Linked DNA regions of Homo sapiens. The protein of the gene in region 7 purifies or fractionates together with the protein of the main gene of each other region. This does not show direct contact. Each region holds a gene or a part of one and is shown on either strand. Other genes may lie near its edges. The genes, in order: NCOA7, PRKAR2A, NFXL1, ARHGAP35, LONP2, ARHGEF10 and HSPA12A.

What was found.
Region 1: the proteins of HSPA12A (region 7) and NCOA7 purify together in Homo sapiens (affinity purification with mass spectrometry; one large-scale study listed by BioGRID and IntAct). This does not show direct contact.
Region 2: the proteins of HSPA12A (region 7) and PRKAR2A purify together in Homo sapiens (affinity purification with mass spectrometry; one large-scale study listed by BioGRID and IntAct). This does not show direct contact.
Region 3: the proteins of HSPA12A (region 7) and NFXL1 purify together in Homo sapiens (affinity purification with mass spectrometry; one large-scale study listed by BioGRID and IntAct). This does not show direct contact.
Region 4: the proteins of HSPA12A (region 7) and ARHGAP35 purify together in Homo sapiens (affinity purification with mass spectrometry; one large-scale study listed by BioGRID and IntAct). This does not show direct contact.
Region 5: the proteins of HSPA12A (region 7) and LONP2 purify together in Homo sapiens (affinity purification with mass spectrometry; one large-scale study listed by BioGRID and IntAct). This does not show direct contact.
Region 6: the proteins of HSPA12A (region 7) and ARHGEF10 purify together in Homo sapiens (affinity purification with mass spectrometry; one large-scale study listed by BioGRID and IntAct). This does not show direct contact.

Annotation. Positions count from the first base shown.
Region 1 is NC_000006.12:125,888,460-125,891,959, forward strand, and holds part of NCOA7 (nuclear receptor coactivator 7), read left to right. Parts: intron 1-479; coding exon 480-1,522; intron 1,523-2,182; coding exon 2,183-2,351; intron 2,352-3,500. UniProt on the Homo sapiens protein: Enhances the transcriptional activities of several nuclear receptors. Involved in the coactivation of different nuclear receptors, such as ESR1, THRB, PPARG and RARA.
Region 2 is NC_000003.12:48,767,875-48,771,374, forward strand, and holds part of PRKAR2A (cAMP-dependent protein kinase type II-alpha regulatory subunit), read right to left. Parts: intron 1-3,500. UniProt on the Homo sapiens protein: Regulatory subunit of the cAMP-dependent protein kinases involved in cAMP signaling in cells. Type II regulatory chains mediate membrane association by binding to anchoring proteins, including the MAP2 kinase.
Region 3 is NC_000004.12:47,852,084-47,855,583, reverse strand, and holds part of NFXL1 (NF-X1-type zinc finger protein NFXL1), read left to right. Parts: intron 1-420; coding exon 421-525; intron 526-3,500.
Region 4 is NC_000019.10:47,000,497-47,003,996, forward strand, and holds part of ARHGAP35 (rho GTPase-activating protein 35), read left to right. Parts: coding exon 1-192; 3' UTR 193-3,500.
Region 5 is NC_000016.10:48,355,075-48,357,849, reverse strand, and holds the end of LONP2 (lon protease homolog 2, peroxisomal), read right to left. Parts: 3' UTR 1,186-2,775; coding exon of another isoform or gene 1,140-1,185; 3' UTR 501-1,139; downstream 1-500. UniProt on the Homo sapiens protein: ATP-dependent serine protease that mediates the selective degradation of misfolded and unassembled polypeptides in the peroxisomal matrix.
Region 6 is NC_000008.11:1,952,926-1,956,033, forward strand, and holds part of ARHGEF10 (rho guanine nucleotide exchange factor 10), read left to right. Parts: intron 1-3,108. UniProt on the Homo sapiens protein: May play a role in developmental myelination of peripheral nerves.
Region 7 is NC_000010.11:116,732,567-116,736,066, forward strand, and holds part of HSPA12A (heat shock 70 kDa protein 12A), read right to left. Parts: intron 1-3,500. UniProt on the Homo sapiens protein: Adapter protein for SORL1, but not SORT1. Delays SORL1 internalization and affects SORL1 subcellular localization.

The DNA.
Region 1 (3,500 bases), on a different chromosome or scaffold from region 7:
GTAGCTACTAAGTCAACGAGCTTTTCAAAATTAATGTAGTTGTTTTCTACACTATTTGATAAAAAGGAAAATGTTTGCACATTTAAGGAATTTTAGACATTGGTACTAAAATATTTCCTCTCCTTTATCCTTTCCTTCATGAAAGTCAGAAACATTATTATTTCATATTTAGAAATCTTATGGGTAACATCTTCATGTTCATGTATAACTTCCAATTCCATCATGTGCTTCCAGTAGGATATGCAACTCTCATGGTTCATTCTTTCTCCATTTCCTTTAGTTGACCTATGTTTTATTTTGAAATCAATTTCTTGATTTTATTTTTTTATTCTGAAATCATTTGAACATAAATTTAAGTTGTGATATATTTATGTATTGGTTTTTGGTTGAGTTTCTGTTTTGTTTTTTGCCTTTCCTCCATTTTGTTTTTGGTTTTATTTTTAACATTCCATGTGCACCCACCATTTCTCCCCCAACAGTGACCTACCTCAGGATCTTTGTCCTCTGTACAGGCCTGGAGAATGGGAAGACCTGGCTTCAGAAAAGGATATCAACCCATTCAGTAAGTTCAAATCTATCAACAAGGAAAAACGACAGCAGAATGGAGAGAAAATTATGACTTCGGATTCCAGACCAATAGTACCTTTGGAGAAGTCCACAGGACATACACCTACAAAGCCCTCAGGCAGCTCTGTGTCAGAGAAATTAAAGAAACTGGACTCCTCTAGGGAGACATCCCATGGTTCTCCCACAGTGACTAAGCTCAGCAAGGAACCTTCCGACACTTCTTCTGCATTTGAATCTACAGCCAAAGAAAACTTTCTAGGGGAAGATGATGATTTTGTTGACTTGGAAGAACTTTCTTCTCAAACTGGTGGTGGAATGCACAAAAAAGACACCTTGAAGGAGTGCCTTTCTCTTGACCCAGAGGAACGAAAGAAAGCTGAGTCACAAATAAACAATTCTGCCGTGGAAATGCAGGTGCAGTCAGCCCTAGCCTTTTTGGGAACAGAGAATGATGTTGAACTGAAGGGGGCGCTAGATTTAGAAACCTGTGAGAAGCAAGATATAATGCCAGAAGTGGACAAGCAGTCTGGTTCGCCAGAAAGCCGAGTAGAAAACACACTGAACATACATGAAGATTTAGATAAAGTTAAACTCATTGAATATTACCTGACTAAGAACAAAGAAGGGCCACAGGTATCTGAAAATTTGCAGAAAACAGAATTAAGTGATGGAAAAAGTATTGAACCAGGGGGAATAGACATTACCCTTAGTAGTTCTCTTTCCCAGGCGGGTGATCCCATAACTGAGGGCAATAAAGAGCCAGATAAGACCTGGGTGAAAAAGGGAGAGCCCCTCCCGGTAAAACTGAACTCTTCTACAGAAGCAAATGTGATTAAAGAGGCTCTAGACTCCTCTTTGGAATCTACTCTGGACAACAGCTGTCAAGGTGCACAAATGGATAATAAATCTGAAGTTCAGTTGTGGCTGTTAAAGAGAATTCAGGTACCCATTGAAGGTAAGCTGTTTTTCTTTAATGCCTTTATATTCTGTTGCATAATTGCCTTTCTACAATTTGCACATGTAATACCCACATTAGTACATTTATTTGAAAACAGTATTTTCTCAATAGAGTGTATCTTTGCTGATAGCATTAACAATTGGGGAGAAAATTTACAAGATATGGTATCTATTTTGGAACTTGGACTGTGACATAGATCTCTAGATACCTACTTCAAAAGTCGTTTACTTTTAATCTTTCAAGTTACTTTCCTTTTTTACCTTTATTTTCTAAATCTAGAGGAGTTTAAACTGTTTTTGAAGAAATCTCAATTCTAAACTGAATTGCATTATGTTATATTGTGTTCTCAGTAGCATTCATTAATATGTATTCCTGTGAATTGTCCCAATTCTCTATTATTTGCTATTCTATTGGTTTTTAAACTTATTTTCAGTATGTAGCAGCTCATGGGATGTAGTTCAACCTGAAACAACCAAAGCTTTTTCCTTGTGTGCTAAAGAAGGCTTGAAAAATTTATTAGTCCTGATACGATGTTGTAGGATGTTTCTGCAATGTTTTGACTAAGAGAGGATTGTGCACTATTTTTTTTAAGTTGAAAAATTCTGCTATTACCAATATTGTCAATATTGAGGAACAGTTTTTTCGTGTGTGATTCAGATATACTTCCTTCAAAAGAAGAAAAAAGCAAGACCCCACCCATGTTCCTGTGCATCAAAGTGGGAAAACCAATGAGAAAATCCTTTGCCACTCACACTGCAGCCATGGTCCAGCAGTACGGCAAACGGAGAAAGCAGCCAGAGTACTGGTTTGCTGTTCCTCGGGAGAGGTGAGTATGGGCTACAATGGAAAGTCTGTGGGTCTGTTAGGTTTGGATGGCGTTTTGATATTCTTTATCTTAAAATACTTAATTTTATTCTTGAATAAGAGCTTTATCTGAATTGTAGATTTTAGAATTCTAGAAGGATATTATTTAAAGGGACTTTCTGCTAAATGGTGGTTTTAATATAACAAATATGGAGTCATCATAGGTACTATGTCCTGAACTGCTTTCATAACTTTCTACCTAGTTGATTTTTAAATGAAAGAAGAATTTGATGTTCTCAAGTACCAGTAATTAGAAGTGCTCTTTCATTGAGGATAAAGGAATACTATGGAGCAGATCCAAACACCTCTTAAGTGCAAGAAAGAGGCAGGATTATAATTTTCAAAGTGCTTATAATTCTAGGGAATGAAAGATTTATTGTCCTTATGGAGGGAGCATCTGTAGCTCAGCAGCATAAGAAATGTGATCCCCTGGATAGTCTCAAGGGTTGTATACTCCTATAAAAAATTATATTTTCAATTCACCAAAGAAGATACCTTCTTGGTTATGTGGCAGTCTAGGATAGGAGGGATAGTGGCATAGAAATTCTTCAACAGTATATCACTGAGGATGTCTTTATAATAAAAATAATTAGGGAATATTCTTTTTAGAAAACAATTAATTGCTTTTATTTCATATATGTGGTAGAATAAAAATGTCTTATAAAGTCCTTGCACTTAGTTTTCAACACTGTTAAAACCATGCATCTTGCCCCTTAAAAACATCATCATCTAGCCAGATATTCTGGCTAACACACCTGCCAAGAGCAAATACACTCAGCAAGCTTCCATAGCATGATTTCTCAGTAAACAAAATTAAATTCTAAGCAAGAGTGCACCTTCTGGCTGACTACTACCTAGAATGATCATTCTTATTGGGAGAGTTGTCTCATTTTAATAAATTATAGTTTAATGTGAAAAATAATAGGCTTTTTATTAATGAATTTGCTAATAGCTTTTACCTGCCTTAGACACAAACCCACATTAACCCAGGCATTAAACATAACTTGTTTTGCATTTATGTAATATACTCCATCACCTGTGCCTGCAGCCCCCACAGCATCTCCTGGAAATTTAGGGATATTGAGGAGAATGAGGAGAAAATGTGTCTCTT
Region 2 (3,500 bases), on a different chromosome or scaffold from region 7:
GATCACACCACTGCACTCTAGCCTGGGAGACAGAGCGAGACTCCATCTCAAAAAAAAAAACAAACAAAAAAACCCCACAAAAACAGAAAACCCCAATATTTTATTTATTTATTTAAAAAAAACCCATACAGGCTGGGAACAGTGGCTCACGACTGTATTCCCAGCACTTTGGGAGGCTGAGGTGGGGAGGTGGGTGGATTGTTTGAGCCCAGAAGTTTGAGAACAGCCTGGGCAACATGGCGAAACCCATCTGTACAAAAAATACAAAAATTAGCCAGGCGTGGTGGCGTGCACTTGTGGTCCCAGTTACTGGGGAGGCAGAGGTGGGAGGATTGCTTGAGCCCTGGGAGGCGAAGTTGCAGTGAGGTGTGAGAGCACCACTGCACTCCAGCCTGGCCAACAGAGTGAGACCGTCTCAAAAGATAGATAGATAGATAGATAGATAGATAGATAGATAGATAGATAGATATAGACAGACAGAGAGACAGACAGACAGACACACACACACACATACATAGATACATAGATAGATAAAATAAAAGGCCTGGCACAGTGGCTCACACCTATAATCCCAGCATTTTGGGAGGCCAAAGTGGGTGGATCACTTGAGGTCAGGAGTTCGAGACCAGCCTGGCCAACATGGTGAAATCTCGTGTCTACTACAAATACAAAAATTAGCTGGGCATGGTGGTGTACACCTATAGTCCCAGCTACTTGGGAGGCTGAGGCATGAGAATTACTTGAACCCTGGAGGCAGAGGATGCAGTGAGCCGAGATCACACCACTATACTCCAGCCTGGGCAACAGAGACTCCGTCTCAAAATAAATAAATAAATAAATATTAAAAAATACACAGAGGGCAGCAAAGTTAACTCCCAATATTTTACAAATCCACCTACAGTGTAACAAAGATTAGTACAATTGCAATAGCAAACAATATTTCGGCTGGGCGCATGGCTCACGCCTGTAATCCCAGCACTTTGGGAGGCTGAGGTGGGTGGATCACTTGAGGTCAGGAGTTCGAAACCAGCCTAGCCAACATGGTGAATTCCCATCTCTACCAAAAATATAAAAAATTAGCCAGTACTGTTGGCACATGCCTATAATCCCAGCTATGCAGGAGGCTGAGGCAGGAGAATTGCTTGAATCCTGGAGGCGGAGGTTGCAGTGAGCCGAGATAATGCCACTGGACTCCAGCCTGGATGACAGAGCAAGAGTCCATCTCAAAAACAACAACAACAACAACAGATTTCTAACTAAAGAGAAAACAACAAATATCTTTCTTTTTTTTTTTCTTTTTTGAGACAGAGTCTCGCTCTGCCACCCAGGCTGGAGTGCAGTGGCACAATCTCGGCTCACTGCAAGCTCCGCCTCCCTGGTTCACGCCATTCTCCTGCTTCAGCCTCCTGAGTAGCTGGGGCTACAGGCGCCTGCCACCGCGCCCGGCTAATTTTTTGTATTTTTAGTAGAGACGGGGTTTCACCGTGTTAGCCAGGATGGTCTCAATCTCCTGACCTCATGATCCGCCCGCCTTGGCCTCCCAAAGTGCTGGTATTACAGGCGTGAGCCACTGTGCCCGACCACAACAAATATCTCTTACAGCGACTTTTTTTTTTTTTGAGATGGAGTTTCGTTCTTGTTGACCAGGTTGGAGTGCAATGGCGCAATCTTGCCTCACCGCAACCTCCGTCTCCCAGGTTCAAGTGATTCTCCTGCCTTGGCTTCCAGAGTAGCTAGGATTATAGGCATGCGCCACCATGCCCAGCTAATTTTGTATTTTTTAGTAGAGACAGGGTTTCTCCATGTTTGTCAGGCTGGTCTCCAACTCCTGACCTCAGGTGATCTGCCCACCTTGGCCTCCGAAGTGCTGGGATTACAGGCACGAGCCACTACGCCCGGCAAGCGACTTTTTTTTTTTGAGACAGAGTCTCACTCTGTCACTCAGCAGGCTGGAGTGTAGTGGCATGATCACAGCTCACTGCAGCCTTGACCTCTTAGGCCCAGGTGATCCTCCCAACTCAGCGTCCCAAGTAGCTGGGACTACAGGCATGTGCCGCCACATCAGCTAATTTCTTATTTTTCATAGAGACAGGGTTTCACCACGTTGCCCATGCTGGTCTTGAATTCCTAGGCTCATGTGATTTGCCCACCGTGGCCTCCCAAAGTACTGGGATTACATCATGAGTCACCACACCCAGCTGGTTCTACCCCTTTTTACGCATGCTTTAACACTTCCCAAAACTCTCTTTTCATGTGGTGCAAGGCCAGTTCCCATGGCTGTGGAGAATATAAAAAAAGCACCAGACATCAACATAGCCTTTGATGAGCATCCAATCGAGCAGTGAAGAGGAAATTCCCACAGGCAGCAAGTGGTCAGAGGCAAGCAAACACCCCTGAAGTTCAAAAGAGAAAAGGAGTGCTACTCTCTCCTGTGACTGCAGGAATTTCCCAGGAAACCTTCTATTGACTTTCAATAAAGCAAGAGAAAGCAAAAGAGACTACGTATAGGGGCCGTGATGGCAGCTGCCCATTATAAAAGCAGGAATGTAGGATCCAACTTGAAAAACTCAGTGACGACACCAGATCCTCCCTACTTCAACCTCAGAAGGCATTTCCAAGGCCAAAGAAGAAGTCAGGCTGGAGAGGACCTTCTGTGAGTTACTTTCCTAGAGGTGGTATTGAAGCTTTGGAAGAGTCTGGGCTTGCAAAGCAAGTCAATTAACAGGAGAAAAGTAGAGGCCAAAAGGATATCTTGATAGGTCACTGACCTAAGAAAGCAAGGAGAAGAGGAAATGACTGCCAAAGGCAAGGAAATAGAAAGAATAGGAGTCTTAGGAAAGGAAGTCTCAGGAAAAGAAGGGTGGTGAGTAGCACCATGGCCATGGGGAGCTTGTGCCATCATTCTGTGAACACCCACCTTGTACCAGGCACTAAGGGAGTCACTTCTCTTATGCCCATGTATTTAATCCTCATACCCCAGCCACAAAGCAGGTGGTTTTACAGCTCAATATACAGTTTTCAATTTTCATTGAGACTTGGTCTTAGAGATTATCCAAGAATGGGTTATTTGGCCGGGTGCGGTGGCTCTTGCCTGTAATCCCAGCACTTTGGGAGGCCGAGGTGGGCAGATCACCTGAGGTCAGGAGTTCGAGACCAGCCTGGCCAACATGGTGAAACTCCATTTCTACTAAAAATACAAAAATTGGCTGGGCGTGGTGGCACATGTGCACACGTCTGTAATCCCAGCTACTCAGGAGGCCGAGGTAGGAGAATCGCTTGAACCCAGGAGGCAGAGGTTGCAGTGAGCCAAGATCATCTCAAAAAAGAAAAAAAAGAAAGAATGTGTTATTTGGCTGGGCACAGTGGCTCATGCCTGTAATTCCAGCACTTTGGGAGGCCAAGGCAGGAGGACTGCTTGAGCCCAGAAGTTCAAGACCAGCCTGAGCAACATAGTGAGACTCTGTCTCAACAACAACAACAACAAAAAGACAGGTGTGGTG
Region 3 (3,500 bases), on a different chromosome or scaffold from region 7:
CATATGGTTTCCATTACCGCTCCAGCTTTCATCATATCCAGGACATGGGGAAGAGAAGAACATGGAAGTATACTCTTGAAATGATCTGAAGCATGAATCACCTGTACTTGCTTACATTCCATTGACCAGAACTCAGTTATATGGCTATAACTAGCTACAAGGGTGGCTGTAAGATGTACTGTTGGAATGGAGCTGGGGAGAATAATTAAATATAATTAAATTATATATATATAATTAAATTATATAAGTGTAATTAAAATAATTTATATCTAAAAGAAAAATAGTTTACAAATTATCCCATTAGCTAGGATTGATTGACCCTTTGTGTGATGGACTCTCTTAAAATTGTTGGGGTATGGGGGAAACTAGAGTATGATCAAGATGTAAGTATGTAATTGCTTTATTTTGATTTTATTTTAGCTTCCTTGTGGTCATAGATGCAAAGAGATGTGTCATCCTGGTGAATGTCCCTTTAACTGCAACCAGAAGGTAAAACTTAGATGTCCTTGTAAAAGAATAAAAAAGGTAAATATTTTAAGTTATTGAAAATACTTTTCTATATAAGTTGTTTTTGTGTGGTTTTCTTGTTCTTGTTTTTTGATCTATGTGTTTTGGTAGTTGTTTGGCTTTTTTTTTTTTTTTTGCCTTTTAATTTTGAGGTTTTACTTCATAGAACTTTTTTATTATTGAAATGAGCCTACTAGTTCTTTAAACATTTATTTTAAACATAAGCTTTGGCGATTTAATTTTCTGCAATTTAACAGTAAAAGGAAAATTATTTTTTATGTTGGAACCAAATTCAATGCCCTGTTTTGGTCAATGTGCTTTAGATTTGAGGTCTTTGAACAAGGAACACAATGTAACGGGTAGAATGTTTCATTGCTTAAGAAATGGCTTGAGATTAACTTTGTTGCTGTTATTTATGAAATTCTTTTTACCATCAGTATTGTCCTTTGAAAATATTGCCTTAAAAAGACCTCATATGAATAGCCTTATAAAGTAAAATAACATGTAAACTTGGAAAGAACTAATTTTAAGATAAAATGATGGTAACAGAGGAGTAAATGGGCAAAAACTAATGATTACAAAGCCTGATGGAAACAAACTATATACTGCTCAACAAAACTTATGAAGGAAAATATACTGTCCTAATAGTCTTTTTCTCAATTCTCTGTTTCCTTGATCTTCCCTGTTGGCAGTGCTTACTCCTTTGAAACCAACTTTTTTGACCTCTGATTTACCCTATCTCAGTTATAGTCGTAACTCCTTTTTTTTCCTTCATATTCCTATTGTCATTCCCTAAAGCTTGTCTTTTTTGTCTCTTGAAATTCGCTTTTATTCATCCATGTGATGGATATGTATTGAGGATCTTTTATAGGTCCTTTGCCTTTCATTTATGTTCATAGTTTCTGATATGTTTTCCTAGGATAGGGAACTTCTGAATTTAAATTTATACACTTGGCCTTTTAGGGAGTGGAATCTTTAAGTTTTAGATATTTAAATTGACCCCCTGTACCTGAAAATAAATACTTGGTCAAGCCATTTTTAATGTGAGATGTCTCTTAAGTTTTCTCTGAAATCTCATGTCTTGTCCAAGTGCCATATGCCACCCACCCGTTAGTACTTTGGAACAACTCTTTTCTGGGCTTTGGCCACAACTTCGTGACCCATTTCCTTGTCTCTAGTCACACCACTTCCCTGTTCTAAATTCTTCAATGGCTCTTCATCACTTATGGAAAAAGTGCATTGTATAAAAAATGTGTATGTGTAGGTATATGCAGACTCGGCATACCAGGGAGGCTATGATAAGACATTTGCCTGCTTGTTCAGTCTCGTCATCTAGCAATCATCTCTGTGAATCTGTTACTTAAGTGCCCTAATACATATATTGTACCCTCGCTTAGCTTAGGCTGTGGCAATGTATATATATTTTTTTCCTGTGTAAAATACAATATGTTTTTCCTTTAGCTCTCTGCTTACTAGAATCCTGCTAATACTTATTGGAAGCACTTCCTTGTTTGAGAAGGTTTTCCTTCCCCAGGTTCCCTTGGGAAGGCTTAGCTGTTCCTTCCTCTTGACTTTCTTTGTACTGGGTTCATAATGTAGAGCTTTGTGATTCTAGGTATCTGTAACCTTGTTTCCTCATCTGTAAAATAGAGTTTATAGAGATTTATTGAAAGGAATAAAAGAGGTAGTGCTTACATAGCATTTAAAACAATGCTATGTTTAATAAATAGTAGCTGCCATTACTATAAAAGAGGTAGTGCTTACATAGCATTTAAAACAATGCTATGTGTAATAAATAGTAGCTGCAATTACTATTGTTATTTATTTAGCACTTAACAGATGATTATACTGTTTATTTCTTACTGTGTTCCATTTCCCTGTCATGGTGTTTAGCATGTTATAGGCACTCTGTAAGTATCCTCTGAATGAGAAAAGATAAAATCCTCTTCTAAGCTGATGGACTTAATGTCTATAAACACACGATACTTATTTTTGTCTCCAGTGTTTGTTCATGTTAATTTTCTTATGTCTGGACTGTCTTTGGAGGACAAGACTATGTTTATCACTAAATCAAGCCAAAAATGAAGAACTAAGGAATAAAAAAAAAAAAACCCTCCAAGTAATAAAATTCCATGCCATAAAATGCTTTTACTAAATGCACTTTACTCAGGATTTGGTAATCTCATGTCTAAGCTGTGGTAGATTTGAACAAAAAACTAGAGTCTGAGGGTCTGGTGAGACAGGAGAAACTGATACAAATTAAATATACTGAGAGTAAAAGTGACATTGGCAGCAATAAATGAATGAATAAAAGATAGATGTACTACAAAAGGCAGTCTAAAACTAATATAAAGACCACTCTTCAACTCAGTAGGTCATCGTTTTATTCTGTCGTAGTACAGAAATTGGTCATAGTTTTGATGTCAAGACATCAAAAACAGTAGATCAGTGTTCTTTCATTAAGGAGGTAGTGAAGTGCCAACATAAGCTTTAGAACAATTTTCATCTAAACTTAAAAAAAGTTTAACAGTCGAGAGAAAAATTTGTAGCTCCCCAGAAAACTCTCTAGAGCTGCACTATCTGAGATGGTAGCCACTAGTCACATGTGGATATTTAAATGCAAATTGTAATGAATTAGCATAAAACAGTATTAAAAATTTGGTTCCTCATTTTCACTACCCACATTTCAAGTGCTCAGTAGCCATATGTGGCTAGTGCTACTCTGTGGACTAATGCAGATTTACAACATTCCATCCCACGCACATACCAGGAAGCTCTGTTGGACAGCACATTTGTAGAACATTGTATTCCCTGGACACTTTGCAAGAATAACAAACAATAAAGAAAAGTAAAGAATAAAAACAACATGGGAGCTAAGTCCAATAGTGGCACATAGTAATTATTAAGTTGATTTTTAAAAATTTTATGGTATTCTCTTTTTTAAGTTAAGAGAAAATAAGCAAGTAATCACTATTTGAAGCAGATATTTAATG
Region 4 (3,500 bases), on a different chromosome or scaffold from region 7:
TACAATCGGCCCATCACCGAGCCCCCCGGCGCCAGGCCCAGCTCCCCCTCTGCCGTGGCTTCCACCGTCCCCTTCCTCACTTCCACGCCTGTCACAAGTCAGCCGTCGCCCCCACAGTCGCCTCCACCCACCCCCCAGTCCCCAATGCAGCCACTGCTTCCCTCCCAGCTTCAAGCCGAACACACGCTGTGAGCCACCAAGACCTGGGGCGACAGGAGAACCGGTCCTCTCTCTGACGGGGTGGCATTTGGCCTTGAACAAAACCAAGTCCACTGGGGACAGAGGCAGGGGCAAGTGGCTCTCCCCATTACCTTCTCAAGACCTCAGTGGGAGCACCAGCCAATGGTACCATCGGCTGGGCTGCCAGGTACCCTGGGCCTGGCGCTGCAGACCTGAGCTGGCTTGGACCCATTTGAGGACTGAACTAGGCAGGCAATGGCTCCAGTGCCCTCCCTCTGTTCCCTGGACCACCACCCCACGTAGCTGCTCACACCAGCCTCCGGGTGCCTCCCTCTGCTTGTACAGAGCCCATGGTCGGGACAGTGCCCTGGCCTTTGCCGGGGAGGAGGATGCTCTGAGATTCAGGGTGGGGCTGGCAACCCCTGAAGAGAACACTTCCTGTTGGTCTGTCTCTTCCCACCTTCCATCTGCACACACCCCCAAGGTAAGGGTACAGCCCGGCTGGCGGCCTCCTTGGGAACGTGTAGGCCACGGCTCTGCCACCACTAGGTACCTGCTGAGGGCGCTGGCTCTGCAGATCAGAACAACGGAGGATAGCTTTGTGCCTGGACCCAGAGAGTGTGGGACTCCCCGCTTCATCCCCACCGTCCCACTCCACAGCCTTCCCGAAACATTCCCTGGCAAACAAAGGAACACTAGGAGAAAAAATGGAAAAACCCTTCCAGTAATTAAAAAGGAAGAAACCACAGAAAGAAAACTACAGACCTCAAGATTCCACTCTGTGCCCGCCTCTGCCGGGAGGGAGGGAGGCACACAGGTGGAGCTGACCCTCGTCTTTGTGGCAGCAAAACCAGGATGCCTGGAGCTGTGGCCTGAGGGCCTGCTGGGGTCCCACTCACCCACTTAGGTCTAGTCGCTAGATCCCCCGTTTTCCCAAGAAGAGGGTTCGAGCCCTTGGTGGGGACAGCTGGGGAGATGGCAGTGCAGGCTGGAACCTGGGCTGCCCCAGAACACAGTCCATTACGATAGAAACACTAATTGAGCATGTGCGTGGGGTGGGGGTGTGTGTGCACATGTGAGTGTGAGTGTGTGTGGGCGCTTGGTGGGGGGTTGGGGACAGCTGGAAGGTGCCAGGTGCACTTGGGGTTGGGGTTGGTGTGTTGGGTGTTGAAGTGGAATCGTTTCATCCCAGCCATGGAGGCCACCAGCAGGAGTGTTCATGGGGATGTGGGCGAGGTGGGGCACTTTGAAGGAATGGCGGTCTGCTGGTGCCCTCGAAGGGGCATCCTTCCTGGTCTTCGCTGACCCAGAGGCGCTGTGCCTGCATATCATCCACCACCACCCTAGCCCAGCCTTCCCACTGCCCCAGGAAAAGCTCTTCTCCTGGCCACCTCTGCCCCCCAGCACCTCAAACTTGCATGGCTGGGCTGTGGCCTCTGCGGCCAGGAAGCCTGACACTAGGCACCCCCCAGGCGAGAGCTAGTGGGGTGCAGAGGGCCCCATGCCAGACAGCCCTTGGGGCTCGTTGCACTTTAAGAAATAGGATCTGTGGTGTATTCCAGGGGGCCTGATGGACACCTTTCCCGGGCGTCTGCAGCTGCCCTGCCCGTGCCCGCCTGCAGTGGTTGGAGACGGGAGTGGCCCTTCGGCTCCCGAGCTCCCTCTGGGGACGGCTGGCTCACTGTCTCCAGTTCTCAATGGCCAACGAAGGTGCTTGGAAACACCTAACCTTGCAAGTTTTACCGCCTTTTGAGGAACACAAATCGGAGAACAAACCCAGGGTTCAGGCGTGTTTTCTGTGAATGTTGGATGATGAATTTTTGTCTCTTCTGGTGGAGCTGTGCCTGGCCCTGTAGGCCCAGGGTTGGCTGGAAGGTGACATCTGTGTTTCGTTTTAGCTGAGGTTGGCAGAAACGTTCCCAAACTCCCCCAGCCCTGGACCCCAGCAGATGAGGAAACGGCCCCATTTACTGACCCCGCCCCCTTTTCGAGGTTATGCTCACCTGGTCAGCTCCTCACGTAATTGGGGGTGGAGGGAAAGCATGGTGGTGCCCTGGGCCGTCCCTGTGTGAACGCAGGCAAAAGCAGCCCAGTCCCCCTCACTGCTTGAGCTAACACTGCCACCTCTTTTGTGTGAGCACAAAAGCCACGTCCCAAGCCACCTGGCCCGATTCCACAGATGTATGTGCGGCCAGTGACTTCCCCAGGAGTGTGGAGGGGGTGGTGAGGAGGAGCACCTGGGCTCTCTACCCCTCTCCTCACAGAAGTACCTGAAACTAGGTCTGGGGCACTCCCAATGCAGCGCCTTGTCAGCCAAGGTGGGCAGGCAGGGACTGTGGCAGCTTATGTCCAAAGGGAGCCCCCATGCACAGGAAGCCACAGGGTTCCTCTTGTTTCCCCCGCTAACTTCAGCCTCTCATCTGCTGCTCCGGGCTGAGGGACTAGAGGACATCTCGGTCGTTTGAGGGGCATGGCCAGTCGTGGCAGGCCGGCCTTCAGCGTCCGGTCAGGGAAGCGTGCAGCCCAAATGGGCACTTGCATGGGAGCCACAGAGGAGCGTCCCTGGGGATTGTTGGGACCATGCTGCCCCCACTCCCGCTTTTGTTGGGGCTCTAAGTTCTGGAAGGTGTGTGCACAGAGGGTGCTCATGGGACTCGCATGCAGCTCTCAGCACTGGGTGGGAGGGCGTTGGCTTGTCCAGAATGGGGACGTGGGGCAGCCACCCCTGCCCAGCGAGAGCGCAGACACCGTGTGAGGGGACAGCAGCCCTTGGTGCAAAGCCAGAGACTGATCCTGGCTCTGACGGCTGAAGAGGGAAGACCCAAGGCTGGGTGGCGTGGCTCGTGAATCCACTTAGAATTCTTGGCTTGTGTCGCATACTGGGTGTCACGGCACACATTTACTCTGCATTGTCCCCGTCTTTCCCATCGCCTAGCGTTTGGGGAGGAACAGGGAGAGAGCTTCGGGGCGTCTGTCTCCGTGCTCTCCTGCCTCCACCGCCTTGGTTTTGCTTCCTGCTGGAGGCAGGGCACCTGCTGCGACCCAGATTCTTCTGCAGGATGTGTCTGTCTTTGTCACGGTGGACAGAGGGTGACATCATAGGAGCAGCTCGCTGGCCAGAAGGGGATGGGGGCATCCCTGTGCCTCACTCAGCTCCTGCTGCTCTTAGGGAAAGGAGGCCTGGGTCAAGCCAGCATCCCCTTGGTAAAGACCCCCGCAGGCCACCAGGCATTCTGGACACGCACACACACACACACACACACACACACACACAAAACTTCACAGCAGGCCAGCTGCAGTGACTTGTCATCAAGAGTCAC
Region 5 (2,775 bases), on a different chromosome or scaffold from region 7:
TTATTGTAATATGTATGATTTTAAGACCCACCTTTCTGCAAACTTCAAACGTATGTAAGTGGCTGTAGATAGCTTAGCTCACCAAAATAATAGTGTGCTGCCTCCAACCCCCAAAAGCTCTTCATATTTAGAAACATCTGCAGTGATTCTACTAATGGTAGAATTCTATTTCATTCACACTCCTGATTAGAAGAATTGGTAAGTAATCCAAATTAAGAAAATAATGGATCAAATCCAACATACCTGGGGGGTCAGTCTGTGACTGCTGCATTAGAATGGACATAAAAGTAATGTCGAAACTCGACAGGGTGAATAGTGTGTGTGAACTACCACGCAGGACTGTGGTATTTGTGTAGGTTAAACATGAAAGGTACAGATAGAGTGTTACAGAGACCCGGAGTTTGAAGCTTTGTCATTCCCCTCCCCACTCATCCAGTGTGCATGTTCAAAGCACAAAGGAGTATTTGGTAGTTTACTGCTTATGATCCTAACCTGAATTTACCAAAAGAAACGTACGTTTATCTAAAAATGGCACCATCCAAACAAAATTCCTTATCAAGCATCTACTAAGATTTGGTGGCAAACAGTGTGGGTTGTAGATTCTAACTGCCTGGGTTGACTTCTGACTCTGTATCTACCAGTTTTTATTTAAATACCTTCTCTGCCTGGTCCCTCCTCCACAAAAGGGTATGATGTCCACTGCGTAAGGGAATGAGGAAGGCTAGATGTGCTATAAAGTGCTTATTATGCCTGACTTGATACCCCAGTGTCTTGCTGAACCAAATATTTTCGCTATCCTTATATAGCTCTAGAAACTTGACAAAGAAATACACTTTATTATCATAGATGTAATTTTCTTAGGCCTTTCTGAATTCTGAAAATAATAACAGGTTTACAGATATAAATAATGGAGCAAAAGGACACCTGGTTTTGGGGTCACATTTTGACAGGCTTGCACTGTCATGTCAGGATGAGGATTTAGCCTCAAGAGTTTGTATTGCCTAGAAATGTGCTGACAGTGTCATTAAGTACAAACTACAGTATTTCCAAAGAAATGAATTTTCATGACAAAGCTTTTCCTAAAATTGTTTTAGAAGTCCTTTTGCTGTAACTTTTAAAACATCTCAATGACCACTCACCATATTTGCCTGTTGTCTATTCAGACCTTTTTGATATTTCCTTCCTCTTTCAGCATTTTTGTTTTTTAAGTGCAGTTTTCATTGTGGTATCCACCAAATGTTTGTAAAACAAACAAAAAAAATGAGCATTAGTGTTGGACCATAAATCATCAAATTGGATAATGACTAACTGTAGTCTTTTTTTTTTTTTTTTTTTTTAGCTGCTGGATACAATTTTCATGGCAATAGGAACTGAAGTACTTCAAATAATGTGAGCTTAAACATGTTACTTCATTGAAACAACCAAAACTACTTGATGTTTACATCTAAAATCCTGGTTAAAATAAATTTTAGATTTGGAAAGGGAATTGGCAAAACTAACATTCTTTGTAGCAAAATGTCCCTTAGTAATAGTCAAGTTGACCTCATTTCAGTAGTTCATAAAGGAAAATCCAAAGCCCTCAGCAGTGAATTACCTGGCCACATAGCTGATTTTGGTCACTGTGAATGCAGACCAATCACCTAGTACTGGAAGCTCACAGTGGTAGACATCACTATCACAGTACTTTACGGTCATGGATTTCTCGTGAACTATTTCAGGAACAATCACAAAGATGACATTCTTCACTGTATTTGCATTTGTAACCACCAAGCAAGTAAGGATCTCTGCCCCAGATGCATGGTTTGAGGTAAGGTTCACAGGGACCACTAAAGGGGCAGAGCCAAGTAAAAACATGGATGTCTCCAGTGGACAGTGTAGGATTTCTTGATAAGCAAAGCACCTAAAGCTTTTAGTTTTAATACTTGAGAAGTTTTAAAAACCCATGCATAAAACGTGGAATACCGGTAAAATACACATATCCCTAAGTCTAGTTTAAACTAAAATTTCTAGAGTTAATAATTTTCAATAAAAAAATCCAGCTTATTTTGATACAAGGGGTCTTTGGGTAACATCTTAAAAATCAATGCTAGAAAATGCTCAACATCACTAGTCATTAGGGACATAGAATCAAAATACGTCACACCCATTTGGAGGGCTATTATAAAAAACCCAGAAAATGAGTGCTGGCAAGGATGTGGAGAAACTGGAACATTTGTGCATTGCTGGAAGGAATGTCAAATGGTGCAGCTGCGGTGGAAAAGTTTGGCAGTTCTCAAAAAGTTAAACAGAATTATCCTGTTGTCTTAGTCATTTGTGTTAACCGTAACAGAATACCTGAGACTGGGTAATTTAAAAGTACGAATTTATTTCTCATAGTTGTGAAGACTGAGAAGCCCACGATCAGCGTGCTGGCAGACTGGTATCATCTATTGAGGGCCCAGTCTCAGCTTCTAGGACGGGGCCTGTTGCTGTGTCCTCATATGGTGGAAGGGAATCGAAGGGCAAAAAGGAGGTAATTGGTTCCCTTGAGCCCCTTTATAAAGGCACTAAATCCATTAATGAGGATGGAGCTCTCATGACATAATCACCTCCTAAAGCCTCACCTATCACGTTGGTGGTTGCTTCAACATACGAATTTGGTGGGGGGACATTCAGACCTTAGCATATGTGATCTAGTAGTTCTGCTCCTGGATATGTATCCCTAAAGGACCTAAGAAGGGACTTCAAGAGAGATGTGTACACCCATGTTCATAGCATTACTCATAATACCCAAGA
Region 6 (3,108 bases), on a different chromosome or scaffold from region 7:
CAATTCATATTATCTGTGGTTTTTCAGTGTATTATAATGACTTAATAGACTGTTTAATTGGAATTATCAATTTATATATTTTTCCATTTTTTACCTTAGTAGTCCAAGGAGAATCTTATGTTTTTATATTCTGTTTACTGCCAGAATTAGTTTCCATCATTCCTTTCTGTGTTTTATATTGTGGAGAAGGAAGCCGGGATCTCCGTTGTTCCTTTGTGTGTTTTATATTGTGAAGAAGGAAGCCGGGATCTCCGTCATTCCTTTCTGTATTTTATGTTGTGAAGAAGGAAGCCGGGATCTCCGTCGTTCCTTTCTGTATTTTATATTGTGAAGAAGGAAGCCGGGATCTCCGTCATTCCTTTCTGTATTTTATGTTGTGAAGAAGGAAGCCGGGATCTCCGTCGTTCCTTTCTGTATTTTATGTTGTGAAGAAGGAAGCCGGGATCTCCGTCTTTCCTTTCTGTATTTTATATTGTGAAGAAGGAAGCCGGGGATCCGAAAAGGCTCCATTGTGCTATTGCAATGTCAGTAAGAGCTCAGGCTGGAACACATGGCCTTTCTGGACACAGTCCCGTTAGGGATTGGAGGCCTTAAAACATGCTTGTGTGTCTGGAATCAGGATTCCCAATCCAGGGAATTGGCCCAGGAAACAGCCTAAGCTAGGAACAAAGTATGATGCAAGAAGACATTTGCCACAGCATTTAATTTTTAACAGCACGAAACAGGAGGTGACCCGCAGTTCGTAATGACGGATTGGGCCATTTAATAAAATGGTGGCATTGCCGGTAATGGGTAGAACACAGCCAGCAGAAGTGGTGTGTGCAGAGCCTGCAGTGACGCGGAAAACTCCTCGTCCTGTTAAGTTCAGTAAACCACAGCCTTAGATTCTATGTGGGTTACTATGTCAGCCAGGGGGAAATACTAACAGAGAAAACGCTTTGCAGGAAGCTTGTAGAGCAGAACTGTTCCTACGGGCTCCATTTCTGTGATTTCCTCCCAGGCCGACCTGACGGTGGCTTCCGTGCACTCAGATTTTGGCAGGTCCACCCACAAGGATTAAGGAATTCTAGTTTTGCCATTCATTTCCTAATTTATGTTTTTATTATGATATATGGGATTGTACATGTTGAGGACCCCAAATCCAAAAACAAAATGCGAAATGCTCCAATTTTTTTTTTTTCTTTTTGAGACGTAGTCTCACTCTGGCACCCAGGACGGAGTCCAGTGGCACAGTCTCGGCTCACTGCACCCTCTGCCTGCCAGGTTCAAGCTATTCTCCTGCCTCAGCCTCCCTAGTAGCTGGGATTACAGGCACCAGCCACCATGCCTGGCTAATTTTTGTATTTTTAGTAGAGGTGGGGTTTCATCATGTTGGCCAGGCTGGTCTCGAACTCCTGAACTCAAGTGATTCGCCTGCCTTGGCCTCAGATGCTCCAAATTCTGTGTCGACGTGATGCTGAAAGGCAGTGCTCATTGGAGGAATTCAGATTTTGGATTTCAGATTTGGGATGCTCAACCGGCAAGTGCAATGCAAATATTCCAACATTAAAAAAAAAAATCCAAAACACTTGTGGTCCCAAGAATTTCAGATAAGTGACACTCAGCCTGTAAATACATAGAATTGTGCATAACGCACAGTTTCACAGTTTAAATGGTAACGAGAAGAGGCCACCTGCCTGTGCCCAGGTCAGAAGGGGCTGTGACTCACACACTGAGCCTCAGCTGCCCCTTCTCAGCCTCAGCCCTCTCTGCTCACAACCCTAGGAAATGATGATGCTGAGTTTTACGTCAATTATTCCTTTGGTCCTCCTCTGTAGTTGTACCAATTTGTATCTTAAAGGGTACTTTTCACCTTTCCGGCTTTTGCATTTTCCTAGCTGTCCCATGGTGCAAGCAGCCTCTGTTGCTTTTTCTCTCAGCCTTGCTGGGGTCAGTCCCTGCTGGTGCCACAGCTATAGTGCTTTCCTCTCCCTGCCTGCAGCCTGCCTCTGAAAGGAGGTGCCCTCATTGCCTCTGGATGGATAGCCAGGTGCTCCCTGAAAGGAGGTGCACTCTCACTGTTCCTCTGGAGGATAGCCAGGTGCTCCCTGAAAGGAGGTGCACTCTCACTGTTTTTCTGGATGGGTAGCTAGGTGCTCCCTGAAAGGAGGTGCACTCTCACTGTTCCTCTGGAGGATAGCCAGGTGCTCCCTGAAAGGAGGTGCACTCTCACTGTTCCTCTGGAGGATAGCCAGGTGCTCCCTGAAAGGAGGTGCACTCTCACTGTTTCTCTGGATGGGTAGCCAGGTGCTTCCTGAAAGGAGGTGCACTCTCACTGTTCCTCTGGAGGATAGCCAGGTGCATCCTGGAAGGAGGCACACTCTCACAGTTTCTCTGGATGGGTAGCTAGGTGCTCCCTAAAAGGAGGTGCACTCACTGTGTTTCTCTGGATGGGTAGCTAGGTGCTCCCTGAAAGGAGGTGTACTCTCACTGTTTCTCTGGATGGGTAGCTAGGTGCTCCCTGAAAGGAGGTGCACTCTCACTGTTTCTCTGGATGGGTAGCTAGGAGCATCCTGAAAGGAAGTGCACTCTCACTGTTTCTCTGGATGGGTAGCTAGGAGCATCCTGAAAGGAGGTGCACTCTCACTGTTTCTCTGGATGGGTAGCTAGGTGCATCCTGAAAGGAGGTGCACTCTCACTGTTTCTCTGGATGGGTAGCGAGGTGCTTCCTGAAAGGAGGTGCACTCTCACTGTTTCTCTGGATGGGTAGCTAGGTGCTTCCTGAAAGGACGTGCACTCACTGTGTTTCTTTGGATGGTAGCTAGGTGCTACCCATTTGCATTACACATCAAGCCTCTGTATATTTGTGTGGCTGGCTCTGCTGACATGGGCAGAAGCTCCTTCTGGGGGCTTGCCCAGGGGCAGCATCGCTGGTGTGCAGGGATCACAGGTGTGTGCTTCGCCAGGTGATGAGCGGGCCTGTCCCTGCACAGTCCCCCCAGCTCCTGCTCCCTGCAGACTTCACTTTGCCACTCTCCTCTTTGGGAAATGGACTCTCACCACGGTGGAAGATTCAGTGATGTCATTTGCCTTGGCCAGAGTAGGATGATGGTGAGGGCTGGGGCCTGT
Region 7 (3,500 bases):
GGGCAACCACTACTGTCAAGTGAGGGAACACACAAGAGACTAGAAAAGAAAAGCTGGGCCTGCGGCTCCACCATTGCAGAGTGTTTTATTCACAGCAATTTGACTTGGCACTTCATTCCTTTGAGTTAAGCATTCTTCAAATACTTTTTTAAAATGTAACTCCTGCTGGAGGGACAAGTCATGAATTTGTTAACGGCAAGGAGGTTTGGATCCTTGTGCCGTCTCTGAGTGACCGGGAGTGGCTGGCGGGACTGCTGGAGGATTCTGTAGCCATTGCGGAGTTCAGCTGGAAAGCATGCAGAGGGAGTCGGCAGACCTCGATTCTGAGCCTGGCTTTGCCTAGTGTCCTGGGGCAGTCTCTTCCCCTCCCTGACTTCAGTTTCCCCATCTGTAAAATGAGAGGGTGGGCCCAGTCCAGACATTAGACAACCTGGTCCCATCTAGCTGTGGATGTATCCATGAGCTCTGTTTTCTAACTGCTGGCCCAGGGAAACCACCACCCAAACTGATAACCATCATCCCTTCAAATCGGTCCAGCAGCCATGTGGACTGACTACAAGCAGTTGTTTTCTGAAACTTTCATCTGTCCTTTGGGCACAGACTCCTGCCTGATGGTTGTGCTGTAAACAGTTTCTTATCCCAGCCAGCGGAGATGGTCACTAAGGGACAATGACTAAAGGAAAGAAAAGGAAGTAAGTGGCCAGAGGAGTTTAGCCTTCAGCCCAAGGAAACATGGGAGACAAGCAAAGAGAGGCCAGCCTGAGGCCTCAGAGGCAGCAGGCTGGAGCCCGAATACCTACAGCTTCCCTGTCCCAAACAGAACCAGCCGCCTGGGTACAGGAACCACTGTTCCTCATCACAGAGAAACCAATAAGATCACGAGGTCTGATTTACAAAACATAGGAAGCCCCAAGGGACATCATTTAATTGTCAGTTTATAGGAAGCAAAGGGCACTGGCGTAATCCATTTCCCTCTGAGATCTTGGGTGCTAAGTGGGTCGATGAAACAGGAGCTCCATCCTACAGAACTTACTCCTGGAGTCTCTGTTTTCTGACATTAAAATTCTGAACATAACTGACAAAACTACCCACTAAGTATGCAAACATCTGGGAAGCAAAGCAGTCTCAAAATTTCAAATGACTGAATAGGAAGTGACTGTAGGCTCTTCCTATTGGCTGTTATTTGAGGCTCCACCCCATATCGGAGCAAATATTTTTTAAATGAACACTTATCCCACATCAAATATAAATACACTCAGTCCTCAACTTAGGATGACTCAACTTATGATATTTTCAACGTTTTTATGGGTTTATAGGGACGTAACCCTATTGTAAGTCAAGGAGCATCTGTTCAAGCACTTCCACTGTAATGCAGCATATTTTCCTACAAATCTTCACATTCTACAAACCCATACACTAAAAATAACAGGATTCATGAGGAAAACAAGGTCGGTGTACATCACTCCACACCTGCGGAACCTTGCTACCGGAACCTTTCCAAAAACAGTAACGGAGCACTCACTTCTTAGGGGGCCATTCTCATCAAAATGCAAAACCCAACAGGGCACAGTGGTTCACACCTGTAATCCCAGAGCTTTGGGAAACCAAGACAGGCAGATCACACCTGTAATCCCAGAGCTTTGGGAAACCAAGACAGGCAGATCACCAAGACAGGCAGTTTGAGACCCGCCTGGCCAACATGGTGAAACTCTGCCTCTACTAAAAATACAAAAATTAGCTGGACATGGTGGCACACACCTGTAGTCCCAGCTACTCGGGAAGCTGAGGCAGAAGAATCACTTGAACCCAGGTGGTGGAGGCTGCAGTGAGCCGAGATCACACCACTATACTCCAGCTTGGGCAATAGAGCGAGACTCTGTCTAAAAAAAAAAAAAAAAAAAGCAAAACCCATCCAGGGTGTCACCCACACACCCATACCCATCATTTTCTTATAGGGACAATGTCTTTGCAGCTCCTTCATCTGCCCTCTCAGCTGCCAACAGAGCTTAAGGGAATGGGGAATGGAACAATACTAAAACAGCCCTGACTTACACTAAAGGTAGTTGCATCTACAGATTTTCAGCTTTTTTTTTTTTTTTGCTTTTTTCATATATTAGCCTTCAATCATGAAAAAAGTGCATTCTGGGCTGAGCACGGTGGCTCATGCCTGTAATCCCAGCACTTTGGGAGGCCGAGGAGGGCAGATCACAAGGTCAGGAGATCGAGACCATCCTAGCTAACACGGTGAAACCCTGCCTCTACTAAAAATACAAAAATTAGCCAGGCGTGGTGGTGGGCGAGTGTAGTCCCAGCTACTCGGGAGGCTGAGGCAGGAGACTGGCATGAACCCGGGAGGCGGAGCTTGCAGTGAGCCGAGATCGAGCCGCTGCACTCCAGCCTGAGCGACAGAGCGAGACTCCGTCTCGAAAAGAAAAAAAAGAAAAAAGTTCATCCTGATCTGTCAAAGTGCAAACATACTGGGAAAAATTGAGAATGTGCCAACACAACTTTTCTGAATACCACCATCATTCTTCATTTATCACTTATAGAAACACATGTTCTAGCACAACAAACAAATAATTGTAAGTGTCAGACAATCACTGGGCACTTGCAGAACGTCTTAAGAAGTGAGATCTAACCTACAAGTTGCTTTAAAGCATAATATAGTTTTCTAAAGTTTGTAGTTTCAACATTTTTGCCAAGCCAACTCTGTTAGATTAAAAATAGCCACACATTCTTTGCAGGTCCTCTCACTAAGAGGTGAAGGCAATTTCTCCATCCCTCTATCTGAGCTGGCTTCAAGACTTGCTGTGACCACCAGGAATACAGCAGACGTGATTTTATTGGACTTCCCAGGAACGCCTCAAGAGGCCTTGCAGCTTCCCCTCTCATCCTCTTGCTGTCCTGAGGCCACCACATAAAGAAGCCTGAGCTTGCCTCTTAGAGGATAAAAGACCATGTGGAGAACGAAGCCCAGCCGACAGCCAGCACCAACCCCCAGACCTGTGAGCGAGGTCATCTTGGACTACCCAGACTAGTTGAGCCATCAGAGTGTTGCAGTCACATAAGTGACCACAGGGAAGACCACCAAAACAACCACCCAACAGAGACCTGCCCAGAGAATCATAAGCCATAAAATGACTATTGTTGCCAGGCACGGTGGCTCATGCCTGTAATCTCAGCACTCTGGGAGGCTGAGGCAGGAGGGTTGCTTGAGCCCAGGAGTTTGAGACCAGCCTGGGCAACATAGTGAGACCTTGTCCCTATTTAAAAAAAAAAAAAAAGCCAGGCATGGAGATGTGCACCTTTAGTCCCAGCTACCCACAAAACTGAGGTGGGAGGATCGTTTCAGCCCAGGAAGCAGAGCTTACATAAGCCAAGATCACGCCACTGCTCTCCAGCCTGGGTCACAGAGGAAGACCTTGTCTTAAAATAAATTTTTTTAAAAAGACTATTGTTTTAACCCATTAAACTTTGGGGTGGTTTGCTACATAGTAAAA